Linked DNA regions of Homo sapiens: region 2 is linked to region 1. The links come from fine-mapping of genetic effects on gene expression. Tissue or cell type: whole blood. Region 1 holds a variant in brackets; the other region holds the start of a gene. All regions are shown on one strand. Distances are between the middles of the regions.

Region 1 (8,000 bases):
GCTACGAGTGTGCCGCGGTGGTGCTGCACTCGCCGCTCACCTCGGGCATGCGCGTCGCCTTCCCCGACACCAAGAAGACCTACTGCTTCGACGCCTTCCCTAAGTGAGCGGCCCGGGCGGGGACGGGGGCGGGGCGGGGCCCGGGCCGGGCGCGAAGTCTCACCGGCTCCACGACCCTCCCGCAGCATCGAGAAGGTGTCCAAGATCACGTCTCCCGTGCTCATCATCCACGGCACGGAGGACGAGGTGATCGACTTCTCGCACGGGCTGGCGCTCTACGAGCGCTGCCCCAAGGCGGTGGAGCCGCTGTGGGTGGAGGGCGCCGGGCACAACGACATCGAGCTCTACAGCCAGTACCTGGAGCGCCTGCGTCGCTTCATCTCCCAGGAGCTGCCCAGCCAGCGCGCCTAGCGGCGGCCCCAACCGGCCGGACCTCAGCAATAAGGCGGCCCCCGGACCTCACCCCGCGCCGGCCCCCACCCAGGGGCTGCATGTGGACCCCCCGGGCGGCCCAGGGGACCCCGCCCCGACCCAGGGGCTGTGGACGATGTACAGGCAACAGAGCTACGCACTCCTTTCCTTTTGGAAGCAAGAAGAAAATACGTGAAAACGGAAATTAAAGATTTAAAATTTTAGGGCTGCTCTCCTTCCTTTCATGGCTCTGCTCACTCTCTCGAGCGCTCAGCGAGCTCGAAAGGGGGCCGGGGTTCCCAGGTTTCGTCCCTGAGTCCCTAGGAGAGATCGGCACGGACCCCCTTATAGGTTTTACTCTGCGGAAGTGGGGTGGGTCTCTGTCTAGTCCGGGGAGCCCTTAGGGAGCTGGTTGCCTGGGCGATGATGGGTGGGGCAGCGTTTGAGCCCAGGACCCCTGCCTGCTTCCTAGGGAGGCTGGTGAGCCCTGCTGGGTGGGCGCGATGAGGACGCCAGGCGTGGGGGCCCTGCTGCCATCGCGGGACTGCCCCCTCGACAGCTTCCCGTCAGTCCTACTGCAGAGGGGCCAGGACAGCGCACTCTGGGTCCTGAGGTGCCGCGCTTGACGGACCTCAGAGCTCGGACAGGCCGCTTCCTTCGTAGATGGCGAAGCTGGGGTCCAGCAGAGGGCGGTGGCAGGTGCTTGGGCCCCGAGGGTCTCCCCTGGAAGAGGGAGCCGACACTGGAGCTGGGATCACGAGAAGAGTTCCTACGATCTCTAGGGCAGAAGGCTTAGGACCGGGAGGACTCGGGAACCGGTGGCCTGTTGTCCACCTTAGGGTTGGGCAGGGTTCAGCCTGTGTCGCGCGACCAGGCGGTGGCGAGGCCGGGATCCCAAGCTGCATCCAGCTAGCTCTAGTCCGCGGCCCCTTTAAGGGGGGGCGGTGCTTCAGTCTGGGCGCGAGAAGGCGCTGCGTCACGTGCGGGGCCGCAGCACGGACGGAAGCGGAAGTGGCGGCGTGCGTGCGGCAGTGGAGACGGCGGCGGCGGTGGCTGGCGTCAGGCTGTGGACGAAGAGGCGGCCTCGGTGGTAAGTGGCGGCCGCTGGGACCCAGCCAGGTACCGGTCCGGCTCGGCCCTGCCCCTTTCCGGCCGCTCTCACTCCTTCCCTCGGCCTCGAGTTCCTCGTAGGCCCGTGGGGGCCGCCGCGGGGTCGGGGCTGCGAGGCAGCGCCCGCCGTTCCATGGTAAGCGGTGCTACGGGACGTTCGGAAGGAAACCTCGCTAGAGCAGGGGACGCCTGGGCTCCTGGCTGACCACGGGGCCTTTGCACGGCCAGGGCTTTGCGACCGCAGTGTCTTCCTTCTGTCCCCGGTCGTGCGCCGTGCCCCTCAGCGCGGCTCACGTTTCGGAACACGTCTGCCTTTCATGCCTCCCGAAGAGCCTCCCCGCATCCCGTGCCCCCTGCTCGCTGCTGCCGCTGACCCTTGGGCGCTGCGCTGGTCCAGAGCGTGTTGTCCTCTGACGCCGTCAGAACCTGAGCTCCCTGCGAGCTGGGACTCCGCCGTGTCTTCATTGCCTCCAGTGCAAAGCAACTGCTTGCAAGAGAACAAAAGTGTGTTCAGGTGCACAGAGTAGAAAATTCAAGGAGCCTGAAAGGGTATTTGGTGAAGACTTGATGTGTTTTTCCCAGTCCTAACCTCCAAGGCCCAGTTCTCCCCTGGGGCAGAGGGAAACCCGTTTCTTACGGGTCTGCAAAGAAAGTCTATGCAGGAACATCTACGTGCGTTTCTGCAAAAGGTCAGTTACTTTACTTGGGGCTCTTATACTTAACGTAGCTCGGAGAGCGCCCCATGCATTCAGATACAGGTGGGATTCCTCCGGAAACGGAGTTTTATAGCACCAGACTTTATCCCCTTTCCTGTAGAAATTTAGGGTTTTTGCTGTCTTTTATAACGAACAATGCTAGCTTGACTATTGCTTGTACAAACCGTTTTTTGCCCAAGTCGGACTATTTTCTTAGGTTAAATTCCTTGGTGCAGAAGTGCGAGGGCTGTATTTAGGCCCCTAAAGGGGTGGTACCAAATCGCCCTCCCCCACCAGCATAAGAGGGGGCCGGCGACACCCTTGCCCAAGCTGGATTTTGCAGACCTGGTAGGCGTGAGATAGTATTTCACTGTAGCTTGTGTTTCCTGTAAGTATAGTCGAACGTCGTGATGTTCCTGTTACATCTATGTTACGTTGATCATTGTTACCACTGACAGTCGTTTCGAGATTGGAAAATATGTTTATTATAAACGTTTGACTATTTAAAAGCCATTTGTATTTTATCTTCTTGGCTCATTTTTCTGTTGGGTGGATGGTGGTGGTTTCTAGGTGCACTTTACAGATTAAGAAAATTCGCTTTCTGTCTAGTAGAAGTGTTTTTTTTTTTTTTTTTTTTTTTTTTTTTTTGGGACTCTGACACATTTATTGCTGAATACCATTTCTCGGCTGACCCGGAAGTGTTTCTTTTTTCTATCTGTCATTAGTCTTTGACTTTGTTTGTATTTTTTTCTTTAAGCTAAGCATCTAAAATTGTTACTGGTCATTAGTTTTTTTCTCTTTACGGCTCCTGCATTTTTGTGTCATCTCAGGAATATCTTCTCCGCTGTAAGATCATAAAACATTTGAGATTTTCTTCTAGAAATGTAGTGGGGTTTTTTTTTCCCCATATATTTAAATGCTTATGTCTAATTTTAGAAAGTATTCCTGGTAAGGAGTAAGGTAGGAAGCAAAACTTTTTTTCCACAAATTGTCCCAACTTTATTTCCCAAAAAAGCATTCTTTTCCCCACTGAAGTGCTGTCTTTATGGCAAGTAGATTTGGGTCTGTCCCTAGACTCTTATCCCAGTTTTCCAGAACCCCATTGTCTTCCTGACCTCATGTCC[G/A]GAGGCCCCTCCTCCTTGCATTATTTTGCACGTTTCTTTTTTCTCCTGAACAGCAGGCAAGTTTATCTGGTTCTCCCACCGTGATCTTCTTTGAAAACATTGAGATTGCTTAGATTCTTAGATTTACAGATCAAACTGAGATAAAATTCTCATCTTAAAATAGTTGACGACTTCATCTGATCCATGTGGTACTAGTTCCACAAGACACTGTGATGAAGAGGATTTTGGAAATCGAAGTATTTGGGGCCGCCCCTCCCTCCCTGCGGGCTGTGGATATTCACGGTGCGCGATGCTGGCCTTGGTTTCAGGCAGCCCCATTCTCAAGCTGCTGCGAACTCAGCACCGAGGCTTCGGCAGGGCTCCCAGACGCCTTCAGCGTACACTGTGTTCCCTCTGCCTGTCCCTCTCACATGGGGTAAACCGAGTCCGGGCCTTCAGGCTCCAGGCTGTCAGGCCAACTTCCACCCTCGGCCTCTCCCCACCACCCCCTGCTCTTGGGACCCGGGAGGACCCCGCAGGGGTGGCGACAGGGGAGGCCAGCACTCTATTCCAGGACGCGCGCTCTCCCCACCTCCCACTTGGTATGGCCCGGGGCCAGGCCACCTGGGAGTAGGGCCAACTTCCCGTTCTCCATTTTGTGGATTTTCCAGGACACACTTGTTCAAGCCCTGCAACAGCGTTCTCCCGGGTAGGGCGCCTGGGGGCTGAGTCTCTGGTCCACCCTGTGTCACCTGCTCCTGGTACACCCCAGCACGGGGCCCTGGGTGACGGGACAGACACCAGCCAGGTGACCCTATGGCCTAGGCCCACTCTGGTACCCGGAGCCCGGGGGGAGGGCAGACCCTCCCCAGGGCCAGTGGCTGGAGCATGGCTGTGGGTGTGGCAGAGGCTTGCCTGAGATGTGGGCTAGGCCCTTCCAGTGGGTCAGGTCTGGGGCGGTGCCCAGGGCTGTGCACCCTCCAGCTGCTCCCCAGGGGACCAGTGGCCTGTCAGCCCCGACTGGCATTCGTGGGGTCCCAGCATGTGTGTGTGGGCGGCTGACCAAGCTCTTATGACGCTGTGGCTGCATTCATCCGTCGTCCCATTAATGCCAAGCTGGTGGGACCCACCCGGCTGGCTCTGTTCTGCATGACCTGAGGGCCCTCTGGGGTTCTGGAAGAGGATGGAGACCATCCCTGCTTGGCTGTGATTCTGTCCTCTTGGCCTGTGGTGGCCGTGACCTGAGGTGGGGCCTCTGGGAGCAGGCGCCTCCTCTTTCCTCCCCTATGGCAGGCACCTGCCTGTCCACCTCTGAGTCCGGGTGTCAGGATCAAGGTGGGAGTGCAGGGCCGCCTTGTTAACTGGGAGTCCATCCAGTGGGCGCCCAACTGGTATCAGAGCGGCCCAGGGGCCAGCACAAGCCCCTGGTCCCACTTCCCTCCCGGTTCCGGGCTCCGGCCACGGGCCACGTCGATCTTCACAACGATTCTGGGCTGCTGGGGTGACTGTCCCTGCTTCCCCACCGAGAGAAGTAGCCGAGACCCCGGCCAGGCCCGCGCTCCCTCGGCACTCGGCGTCTCCCAGCCACGACAGCACAGGTGGCTCAGAAATAAGGTCCCGGGACACACATCTGCCCGGCCAGACAGCGAGCACCTCCCGCCAGACCAGAGCCTATTCTCTCCCCAGCACCCAGCCGGAAGTGGAGCTCAGAACAGGCAGTGTGTGTGTCCGTGGAGGATAAGAGCGCGACTCTGGGACCCGCCCTCCCCAATAGCCTCACGGAGGGAACAGGCCCAGGCGGGGTGCTTTATGTGAATGAAGCCTGTGGCTGTTAGCAGAGTGCCCTGAAACCCCACCACTAGGCTGGGCGCGGTGGCTCACGCCTGTAATGCCAGCACTCTGGGAGGCCGAGGCGGTGGATGACCTGAGGTCAGGAGGTCGAGACCAGCCTGACCAACATGGTGAAACCCTGTCTCTACTAAAAAAGTACAAAAATTAGCTGGCATGGTGGCGGGCGCCTGTAGTCCCAGCTACTCGGGAGGCTGAGGCAGGAGAATCGCTTGAACCCAGGGGGCGGAGGTTGCAGTGAGCCAAGATTGCACCACTGCACTCCAGCCTGGGCAACACAGCAAGACTCCATCTTAAAAAAACAACGAAAAACCACCGCCACCTGTCTGACCCTGTTCAAGGGGGAAAGCTCTTATGGAAGCTTTTCATCATCTTTGGGAGGCCAAGGAAGCGGGGTGCCTGGGGGTCCTGGTCCCCTCCCGACTCTGTGCAGATAAAATCCCCGGCCCTGGCCCTGCAGTCCTGCTGAGGAGGGGCTGGGGGTGCAGGGGTTGGGGGATTCGCACGGGAAAGGAAATGCCAGCCGGATCCTGCCCCTGCTGCCCACCCTGTGCAGGATGGAGGAGGCCTTGGTGTCCCTGAAGCAGCTCCTAGCATGGATGCCGTGGACCCCAGAGATGCTCCCTGCAGGACCCCACGCAGGGGCTTCCTTGCAGTCGGCCAGCAGGGTGACCTCGCTGTGTCCTCCGGTTGGAGGGTGGCAGCTGCTGCCCCACCTTCCCACCTGGCTGGTGGAACCTTGTCCTCTGTCCCCCAGGAGCTTGCAGCTGCCCCCCCGCCCCCCACCGTGCGTGGTGGCCCCCCTGGACTGGACCATGGTAAGTGATTTAACGCCTTAACACAGAAATATACCCTGAGTGGCTTTGGGGGTCGGCGTTTTGGTCACATAATGCAACACCTGCAGTAATGTAAATAAAGGCTATCACCAGACCACAGTGTCCTGCAGGAGCGCCAGCCCCGGGGGGGTGGGGACTTTAGGGTTTTGTTGACAATCAGGATCACCGGGAGAGGTCAGGGTCACACCGTCAGATACTCAAATGGGTGGCACAGACCGCTGAGTGCGTCCTCTGCAGGCCTCATGGCCACCTCCGCAGCCCGTCCAGTCCCTCCTGCTACGGCCCTGGGTCCCTGCAGGCCTGTCCGGAGGTGGCTTCCACAGGTTGGCAAAGGTCATCCGTGAATAAACAGCCTGTGGGTACAGGTGACAACACACGGAGAATTGAGGCCATGTCTGGGGCACAGGCTTTACTGTGAAGCTTGCTTTTGCCACCCCATCTGTGAGGCTCTGCAGCAGGACTGACGGTTCTGCCTGATTCTCCAGCAGCCTCAGGGTCTCTGTGACCCCGCCGCTGATACTGGGGTCCATTCCCTGTTTTTTCTGTTACCAGCAGTACAGTGCACAACCCTGTGCACTCTTTCCTTACGGATCTTTCTTTTTTCTTTTTTTTGAGACAGAGTCTCACTCTGTGGCCCAGGCCGGAGTGCAGTGGCGCAATCTTGGCTTACAGCAATCTCCACCTCCTGGGTTCAAGTGATTCTCCTGCCTCAGCCTCCCGAGTAGCTGGGATTACGGGCGCGTGCCACCACGCCTGGTTAATTTTTGTATTTTTAGTAGAGACGGGGTTTCACCATGTTGGCCAAGCTGGTCTGAAACTCCTGACCTCAGGTGACCTGCCCGCCTCTGCCTCCCAAAGTGCTGGGATTAAAGGCGTGAGCCACCACGCCAGGCCAGGAATCAGGAATCTTTCTTTTTTTCTTTCTTTTTTTTTGGGTCAGACTGTCACCCTGTTACCTGGGCTGGAGTGTAGTGGTGTGATCATGGCTCCCTGCAGCCCCAACCTCCCAGTCCTAGGCTCGAGTGATCTTTCCACCTCAGCCTCCCAATTACCTGGGACGACAGGCACACGTCACCACACTTGGCTAATTGTATTTTGTGTAGAAATGCAGTCTTGCTTTGTTGCCCAGGCTGGTCTCGAACTCCTGGCCTTAAGCGATTCTCCCGCCTTGGCCTTCCAAAGTGCTGGGATTACAGTCATGAGCCACCATCCCTGGCCCTTAGGAGTATTTCCTGGGTGCCTTTCTAGGAGTGGACTTTAAAGCAACTCCAAGCAGTGCTGCAAATGTGAGCTGCTGCCGTGCTGCCATTGTCATTATTATTATTCAGTCCAGTCACCCCCACATCCACTTTTCATATTTGTTTAAAAAGTAAGTTTTGGCCGGGTGTGGTGGCTCACGCCTGTAATCCCAGCACTTTGGGAGGCCGAGGCGGGCAGATCATGAGGTCAGCAGTTCGAGACCAGCCTGGCCAATGTGGAGAAACCCCGTCTCTACTAAAAATACAAAATTAGCCGGGTTTGGTGGCACGTGCCTGTAATCCCAGCTACTCAGGAGGCTGAGGCAGGAGAATCACTTGAACCAGAGAGTCAGAGGTTGCAGTGAGCCGAGATTGCACCACTGTACTCCAGCCTGGCGACAGAGGGAGACTCCGTCTCAAAAAAAAAAAAAAAAAAAAAGAAAAAGTATTTATCTTGGGTTGGGTGTGGTGGCTCACGCCTGTAGTCCTAGCACTTTGGGAGGCCAAAGCAGGAGGATTGTTTGAGCCCAGAAGTTGGAGATCAGCCTGGACAGCAAAAGTAAGACCCTATCTCTAGAAAATGAAATTTAAAAAATTTAGCCGGGCGTGGCGGTGTGCACCTGTGGTTCCAGTTACTTGGGAAGCTGAGGTGTGAGGATCACTGGAGCCCAGGAGGTAGAGGCTGCAGTAAGCTATGATTGCTCCACTGCACTCCAGCCTGGGCAACAGTGAAATCTCATCTTAAAGACAATAATAAAA
Region 2 (8,000 bases), 32 kb before region 1:
GACAAGCCACGAAACGTAAGCCCCGGAGCGCAGCCCCTCCCCTGGTGGGCCCGACTTCCCATCCCTTGACCACATTCCTGCAGCTGTGGTGGGCCCTGGCTGTCGGGTGGAGCAGGCAGCCACTGGGGTGTCCCTGCTTACTCAGTCACAGAGGAGGCCCTGGCTGGAGTGGGGCTGCGGGAAGAGCTGGGATCACTCCCGGGGCTCCTGCTAACATCCCTGACTGCCGGGCAGTGTGCCAAGGCGGCTCTCGGGTGAGAACCTCCCGGCCTGACATCACCAGCACTGTTACCATCCCTGCCGCTGGCACAGGTGAGGACATCCCTGCTGCTGGCACAGGTGAAGACATCCCAGCCACTGGCACAGGTGAGGACGGGAGGCAGTAAAGCCGTTACCATCCCTGCTGCTGGCACAGGTGAGGACAGGAGATAGTAGAGCCATTACCATCCCTGCTGCTGGCACAGGTGGACATGAGGCAGTAGGGCCACTCCACTGGAGAGGAAGGGCTGGTGGGGCCCCCAGCTCTCGGGATCCGCCCATTAGAAGGGAGCCTGCCCTAGGCGGGCAGACAGCACAGCAGAGAGGCAGGCGTGGGGACAGCCAGCCTGCAGGGACTGCTCACAGGGCCCTGGGGGACAGCGCCTCTGGCTCCCACATCTCTGGCATCCACCCCACCTGAACACCCCCAAACCACAGTCTCAGCTGGCCAGCCTTCCCCCACCTGCATCTGCCCCCACAGACTCGCACCGCAGGCCTGAGGTTGGATTACAGGCGTAAGCCACCATGCCCAGCCCACATTTTTTTTTTTTTCAGACAGAGTCTCACTCTGTTGCCCAGGCTGGAGTGCAGTGGCATGATCTCAGCTCACTGCAACCTCCACTTCCCAGGTTCAAGCGATTCTCCTGCCTCAGCCCCCCTAGTAGCTGGGAATACAGGCACATGCCACCACGCCCGGCTAATTTTTGTATTTTCAGTAGAGACGGGGTTCCACCATGTTGGCCAGGCTGGTCTTGGAACTCCTGACCTCAGGTGATCCACCTGCCTCAGCCTCCCAAAGTGCTGGGATTACAGGTGTGAGCCACCGTGCCCAGCCCACATTGCTTAAAAGTATAAATTAGTTGGGCACGGTGGTGTGCACATGTAGTCCCAGCTACTCAGGAGACCAAGGCGAGAGGATCACTTAAGCACAGGAGTTTGAGACCAACGTGGGCAAGATAGAGAGACCCTGTTCCTTTTTTCAAATAAATAAATAATAATAAAATCCTAAAAACCTTACTACCTGTGTGCTCACAGTTATTTCTAGCAGACAGTACTGCCTCAGATGGTGCTGGGGCTAAGCCGCAGATGATCTTAAAATGACTCCAGCCGGGTGATCCTGAACTGCCAGCCTGGACTACACATCCCCGCTGGTATGGACGGCTCCTCCCGCAGACAGGGATGTGTCTCTGGATCATTTCGCAGCCGCGCAGCTGTGGGTGCTACTCCTCGACATGCACTGCCTGGTCCACGCCTCAGCCGCCGGGGCGCCCCACAGATGGGGGACCAGCAGCCAGTGGAACTCCAGGCCAGTGGCCTTGGAGGTCACGCTGAAGCGGCCCCAGCGCTGCCCGAAGCTCACGCGTTCAACAAAGCACAGAACCGGAGATGCAGTGGGAGCCGGGAGCAGGAAGCGCGGAGGCAGCGCCAGGTGCTGCCGCTGCCCGAGGCCCCGTGCCAGGTGGGGCCCATAGCAGCCGACTCGCTGGGCCCTCCCAAAACGCACACCACGCGCGACCAGGACCGAGAGGCCCGCACGGCCCTGCTAGGCCACAAACACTCCACTGTCTCCAGGGTAAAAGACAAACACAGCCTCGCTTGTCCCTCCAAGAGTACAACCTCTGTCTGATGAAAAACAAACGACCCAGAGAGGAGGCAGCTGCCGGGACACTGCAGGCTGGGCCCGCCGCGCCCTTGGAGGGCAGGTCAAAATCCCGGAACAGGCACAGTGTTCAGGCTGATTGACTGTCCCAGGCCAGGGCGGCCTCAACTGCCAGAGCACCTCCTACCTACCTGCTATGGCCCGGGGGGACGACTCACTCCCACAGCGACTGCCCCCCAACAGCAGGGGGCCACCTGACCCTCCCTCTACCACACCCACCCAGAAGGCAGGCGACCGACCACTGGGACCCCTCAGGAGGGCAGGCAGCCCAGGTCCCAGGTCCCAGCAGAACACGGCCGCCAGCCTGGGCTGGGAACCGGCATAGCTCCAGGCAGGTGAGTCAGACCCTGCGTGGTGACAACCCTGGTGAACAGGAGGCTGGGAGGCCTTTATCTAAGCCCACAGATGAGGAGGCCAAGGTCCGCGCCGGGACCTGGGTATGTCCACCCAGAAAACACACCCAGTCCCCAACCTGCCCTAGAGGCGTTCAGCCCAGCGCGGTCAATTCCTGACTGCGAGAACTCAGGCACCAGTCCTGACTCCTCCAAGCCTCGGCTTCCACCCCTGTGAAATGGGAATTCCTGCTCTACCTTTTTTTTTTTTTTAAGGCAGGGCTGTCAGGTACATAAGAGAAAATGGGGGGATGGAGGGGCCTGACCATCTTCAGCAGAATCCAGGAGGGCTCCTCGGAGGCAGTGACCCACAGCCCAGCCTGGAAGGCTGGGGAAGTAGGGGAGAGAACTCGGAGAGGGAACAGCTAATGCTCAGTTCCAGGGCACACCAATAGTCTGCGTGGGGGCTTTTTTTTTTTTGGGACAGTCTCACTCTGTCCCCCAGGCTGGAGGGCAGTGGCGCGATCCTGGCTCACTGCAACCTCTGCCTCCCTGGTTCAAGCAATTCTCCTGCCTTAGCCTCCCAAGCAGCTGGGACAACAGATGTGCACCACTATGCCTGGCTAATTTTTTATATTTTTAGTAGAGGTGGGATTTCACCATATTGGTCAGGCTGCTCTCGAACTCCTGACCTTGTGATATACCTGCCTAGGCCCCCCAAAGTGCTGGGATTACAGGCGTGAGCCACTGCGCCCAGCCTGGGGCTTGTTTCTTTACACACACACACACACACACACAATTTTTTTTTTTTTTTGAGACGGAGTCTCACTCTGTCGCCCAGGCTGGAGTGCAGTGGCACGATCCTGGCTCACTGCAAGCTCTGCCTCCTGAGTTCACACCATTTTCCTGCCTCAGCCTCCTTTGGGAGTAGCCGGGACCACAGGCGTCCACCACCATGCCTGGCTTTTTTTTATTTTTAGTAGAGACAGGGTTTCACCGTGTTAGCCAGGATGGTCTTGATCTCCTGATCTCGTGATCCACCCGCCTTGGCCTCCCAAAGTGCTAGGATTACAGGCGTGAGCCACCACGGCCGGCGCTACACGTATGTATTTTATTTATTTATTTAGAGACAGGGTCTCGCTCTGTTGCCCAGGCTGGAATGCAGTAGTGCCATCACAGTTCACTGCAGCCTCAACCTCCGGGGCTCAAGCAATCCTCCTGCCTCAGCCTCCCAAGTAGCTGGGACCACAGACATGTGTCACCATGCCTGGCTTATTAAAAAAAAATCTTTTTTTCTTTTTTTTGGAGAGTGAGTCTTGCTAGCTTGCTCAGCCTGGAGTACAATGGTGCCATCTTGGCTCACTGCAACCTCCACCTCCCAAGTCCAAGCGATTCTCCTGCCTTGGCCTCCCCAGTAGCTGGTTTTACAGGCGCGTGACACCACGCCCAGCTAATTTTTGTATTTTTGGCAGAGATGGAGTTTCACCATGTTAGACAGGCTGGTCTCGAACTCCGGACCTCAGGTGATCCACTCGCCTTGGCCTCCCAAAGTGCTGGGGTTATAGGGTGAGGAACTGCACCCAGCCGTCCTTGTTTCCACGGAGTCGATCCTCTGTTTCTGGCCACCCTACAAGGAGGCCTTCTCTGCAAGACAGCGGGGAACCTCGGTCCTCGGGGTAGTGTGTGGGAGATAACTGGGGGCCTGTGATACAAAAACCTGAAAAACTCATACTCTAGGTAACGATGAGGAACGATGGTCAATTCTGGGGATGTACCAAGGCCTAGGGGAATCTCCACATAAAGGCGAATCAGAGCTGGGGAGGAAGGACGCGAAGGCTACGGAAACTCGCGAGAGCGCGGTTCAGAGGCAGGGGACTGCGGGACATGACCTGAGGAAGGGCCACCGGAAGCAGCTGGAGGATACGGGGTCTCCCGCACCGACCATAAGGGCGCACACGCGCAGAAAGGCGCTAGGCCCGGGGGAGCGCGGTCCTGAGGCTTCCCCCAGGCCAGCGCCGCGCGCGCGCGCGCACGCGCATTCGCGCCGCCTCCCCGCGTCGCCCACCGGCCCGCCCGAGACGCGCGCGAGGCTGGCCTGGGCCCCCCGTTTTCTCCCCACAAACGGCCGGCGCCCCTCACCGCCGAGACCCCCCATGTCAGCCCCTACTCCCCCTCTGGGGAAGTCTGAGCCTGGAGAACCCGAGACCTCGGGGCCGCGCGCTTACCTGAGGGATCCGGGCGCGAGCGCAGCGCTTCGCCAAGTCTTAGCAACCGGCCCGGCCCAACCCACCTCACCCCGCCTCGTCTCCGCCTGGAGCCGCGGAGCACGACGGGAGCGTAGTTCCAGGGGCGGGATCTTCGCCAGGCCAAGGTGGGGCAAGGACTACAATTGCTAGTAGGCACTGCGCGCCGCCGCCTCGCCCCGCCCCGCTCCGGCACTGCGCTCACATGACCTCCGGGCGGCGGGAGGGGAGGAGAGGCGGGGCCGCTGCGCTGGGCGAGCGCTGAGTTTGCAGGTTCGAATCCCATCAAGCGGCCAGGGAAAACTCGGAACCCGGGGGATCTTTGGAAGGTTAGCAGAGTGGGAAGGATGAGGCAGAGGGGGTATATGACACCCGTCCCCTGAGTCCGGGATGGGGCCAGGTTCCAGTTCTGCCTGTTACTGCACTCCGGCGTGGGCCGCCCTCAGGTTTGAGTTTTCTCACCAGTAACGTAGGTGAAGAAGACCTCTTGCCTCTCCTGGGCCAAACAAGCACATTTTTTTTTTTTTTTTTGAGACGTAGCCTCAGTCTGTCACCCAGGCTGGAGTGCAGTGCTAGGCTCACTGCAACCTCCACCTCCTGGGTTCAAGCGATTTCTGGCTAGTTTTTGTACTTTTAGTAGAGAAGGGGTTTCACCAAAACATGCATATTTTATGAGCAATTTGTTACTCCTTCCAGTTGGACAGGTTTAACCAAGTGGTTCTCAACGGGAGGGAATTTGTCATCCCCTCCCCCAACAGCTTGACAGTGCCTGGCTGTAACCAGCTCAGGCTCCGATGCCAGAGTCTTGACAAACCAGTAAGGAGGAAAAAGTGCAGTGAAAGGAAGGTGACTTCCTTTCAGAGTTCGCAGCAGGGAGGCAGCTGGTTTAGGCCTCCAGAAACCCCTTCAAACTTGAGGCTGGGGTGAGGGGCTAAAAAAGGGGAACTGGGAATGGTGGGTGTGCAGGGGAGGTGCTGATTATAAGCTCTGTGTGTTCATGAATTTTGGTGGCTTAAAAGCGCAGGCTGGCCTCATCCTAATAAGGGCCGGGTTGCAGACCACCTTGAGGAAATCTCTGGGATTTTGCAGGTGGGTCTCCGTGCTTGGCCTGTCTCCAGATTAGCTCTAAAACGTTCTTTCTTTTTTCTTTTTTTTCGAGACAGTCTCGCTCTTGTCACCGAGGCTGGAGTGCAGCAGCACGATCTCAGCTCACCGCAACCTCCACCTCCCAGATTCAAGTGATTCTCCTGCCTCAGCCTCCCGAGTAGCTGGGATTACAGGCACACGCCACCACACCTGGCTAATTTTGTATTTTTAATAGAGATGGGGTTTCTCCATGTTGGTCAGGCTGGTCTCAAACTCCTGACTTCAGGTGATCTGCCCGCCTCGGCCTCCCAAAGTGCTGAGATTACAGGCGTGAGCCACCGTGCCCAGCCTGTTCCTGGAACTTTTAGGTAATCACATAATTAGATGCATACAGTTAGGTAAACCTGCAGAGTGTGAGGGAGTTTATGGTGAGAAAGGGGAGGACGTGTTTCAAAGAAAGTGCATTTCAAGGTCGGATGCGGTGGCTCATGCCTGTACTCCCAGCACTTTGAGAGGCCAAGGTGGGTGGATCACCTGAGGTCAGGGGTTCGAGACCAGCCTGGCCAACATGGCGAAACCCCATCTCCACTAAAAATACAAAAATTAGCCAGGCATGGTGGCAGGGGCCTTTAATCCCAGCTGCTGGGAAGGCTGAGGCAGGAGAATCACTTGAACCCGGGAGACGAAGGTTGCGATGAGCTGAGATCGCACCATTGCACTCTGTTGCCTGGGCGACAGAGTGAGACTCCATCTCAAAAAAAAAAAAAAAAAAAAAAAAAAAAAAAAACAGCATTCCAGGAAACTATTTCGCTCTCAGTTGCTTTCTTTTTTCCTTTTCTGAATAAAAACTCAGACTGCTGTGAGTTTCACTTTTTCTTTTTTTAGCTTAAATACACATCTCTCCATCCCTGGATGCCTCATGCAAACTAGCCAAGAGCCCCTGTTTTGCTGATTTGTTTTAAAAAAAAAAAAGACAGCCTTTATTTGGTAAGTCATTAAATCCAAAGCCCAGATTCTCTGCATCTAAAAAAATGAATCTAGGCCAGGCATGGTGGCTCGTGCCTGTAATTCCAGCACTTTGGGAGGCTGACACATGAGGTTTGCCTGAGGCCAGGAGTTTGAGACATGCTGCCATCTCTGCAAAAAAAAAAAAAAAAAGAATTGCTGGGTCCGGAGGGGCACTGAGTAAGTGGGACAGCTGGGACAGCTACTCAGGAGGCCGAGGTGGGAGGATCACTGGAGTCCAGAAGGTCAAGGCTGAAGTGAGCTATGATTGCGCCACTGCGCTCCAGCTGGCTAATTTTTGTATTTTTTAGTACACCATGTTGGCCAGGCTGGTCTCAAACTCCTGACCTCTGGTGATCTACCTGCCTCAGCCTCCCAAAATGCTGGGATAGTGCGAGCCACCATGCCTGGCCTTCTTTCGGGTTTTTGTTTTGCTTTGGGCTTTAAGCTAGTTTCAGTCATGATTTCAGCCTCTACTGATGGGACCCCTTTTTTAATTGACATTGTTCTTTATCCAGAACTTTTCTTTTTCTTTCTTTTTTTTTTTTTTTTTTTTTTGAGAAGGAGTCTCACTCTGTCGCCCAGGCTGGAGTGCAGTGGCGCGATCTCAGCTCACTGCAAGCTCCACCTCCCTGCAAGCTCCACCTCCCGGATTCACGCCATTCTCCTGCCTCAGCCTCCCGAGTAGCTGGGACTACAGGCGCCCACCACCACGCCCCGCAAATTTTTTTGTATTTTTAGTAGAGACGGGGGTTTCACCATGTTCGCCAGGATGGTCTCGATCTGTTGACCTCGTGATCCGCCCGCCTCGGCCTCCCAAAGTGCTGGGATTACAGGCATGAGCCACCGCGCCCGGCCTTTATCCAGAACTTTTCAAAAGTAATGTGGCCCACAGCCGGTGTGCTGGCTCACACCTGTAATCCCAGTGTAATCCCAGGACTTTGGGAGGCCGAGGCGGAGGGATTGCTTGAGTCTAGGAATTTTGAAATTGCCCTGGGCAACACAGCGAGACCTTGTCTCTTTCTTTAAAAAAAAAAAAACAACATAGCTGGGAATGGTGGCGCCTGTAGTCTCAGCTACATGCCGGGAGGCTGCGGCAGAAGGATGGCTTGAGCCCAGGAGGCAGAGGTTGCAGTGAGCTGAGATCACACCAATGCCACTTCACTCCAGCCTGGGTGACAGCCAGACCGTCTCAAAAAACAAACGGAACGTGACCCTCCCGACTCACAGTAATGCGTCAGGGTCCGGCATCGAAATGTTGCAAAATCATGGAGTCGGTTCCCCAATTGTGAGCTTAGTGGCCGCAGAGAATCAGCCAGAAGCCTAAGTCAGACACTGGCGGGCTGGGTGGCCCCAAGTGACAGGCAGTCAAGAAATGACCAGGACCAAGCTCGGGGGCTCACGCCTGTAATCCCA

What was found. PIP is the estimated chance that this variant, and not a neighbour inherited with it, causes the effect.
Region 2: SCAMP4 starts here. The variant in region 1 is fine-mapped to the expression of SCAMP4 in whole blood (TOPMed, PIP above 0.99).

What each region holds. Positions count from the first base shown.
Region 1 is chr19:1,869,611-1,877,610 of GRCh38, reverse strand. It overlaps ABHD17A (abhydrolase domain containing 17A, depalmitoylase), which reads left to right. Exons shown (of 5, transcript NM_001130111.2): 4 at 1-103; 5 at 186-801. The coding sequence ends at 411. It also overlaps a transcript of KLF16 not described here. Among named protein-coding and RNA genes, the nearest start is that of KLF16, 10 kb to the right of the region's middle. RefSeq lists enhancers at 64-764, 1,203-1,252, 765-1,464, 1,465-2,165, 3,354-4,069 and 2 more and silencers at 971-1,112, 1,493-1,742. The variant G/A (reference allele first, on the strand shown) is at 3,341.
Region 2 is chr19:1,901,915-1,909,914 of GRCh38, reverse strand. SCAMP4 (secretory carrier membrane protein 4) reads right to left here and starts at 4,516. Exons shown (of 7, transcript NM_079834.4): 1 at 4,476-4,516. It overlaps ADAT3 (adenosine deaminase tRNA specific 3), which reads right to left and starts at 4,516. Exons shown (of 2, transcript NM_138422.4): 1 at 4,476-4,516. RefSeq lists enhancers at 1,126-1,937, 4,013-4,102, 5,123-5,182, 5,463-5,522 and silencers at 4,263-4,412, 4,463-4,792.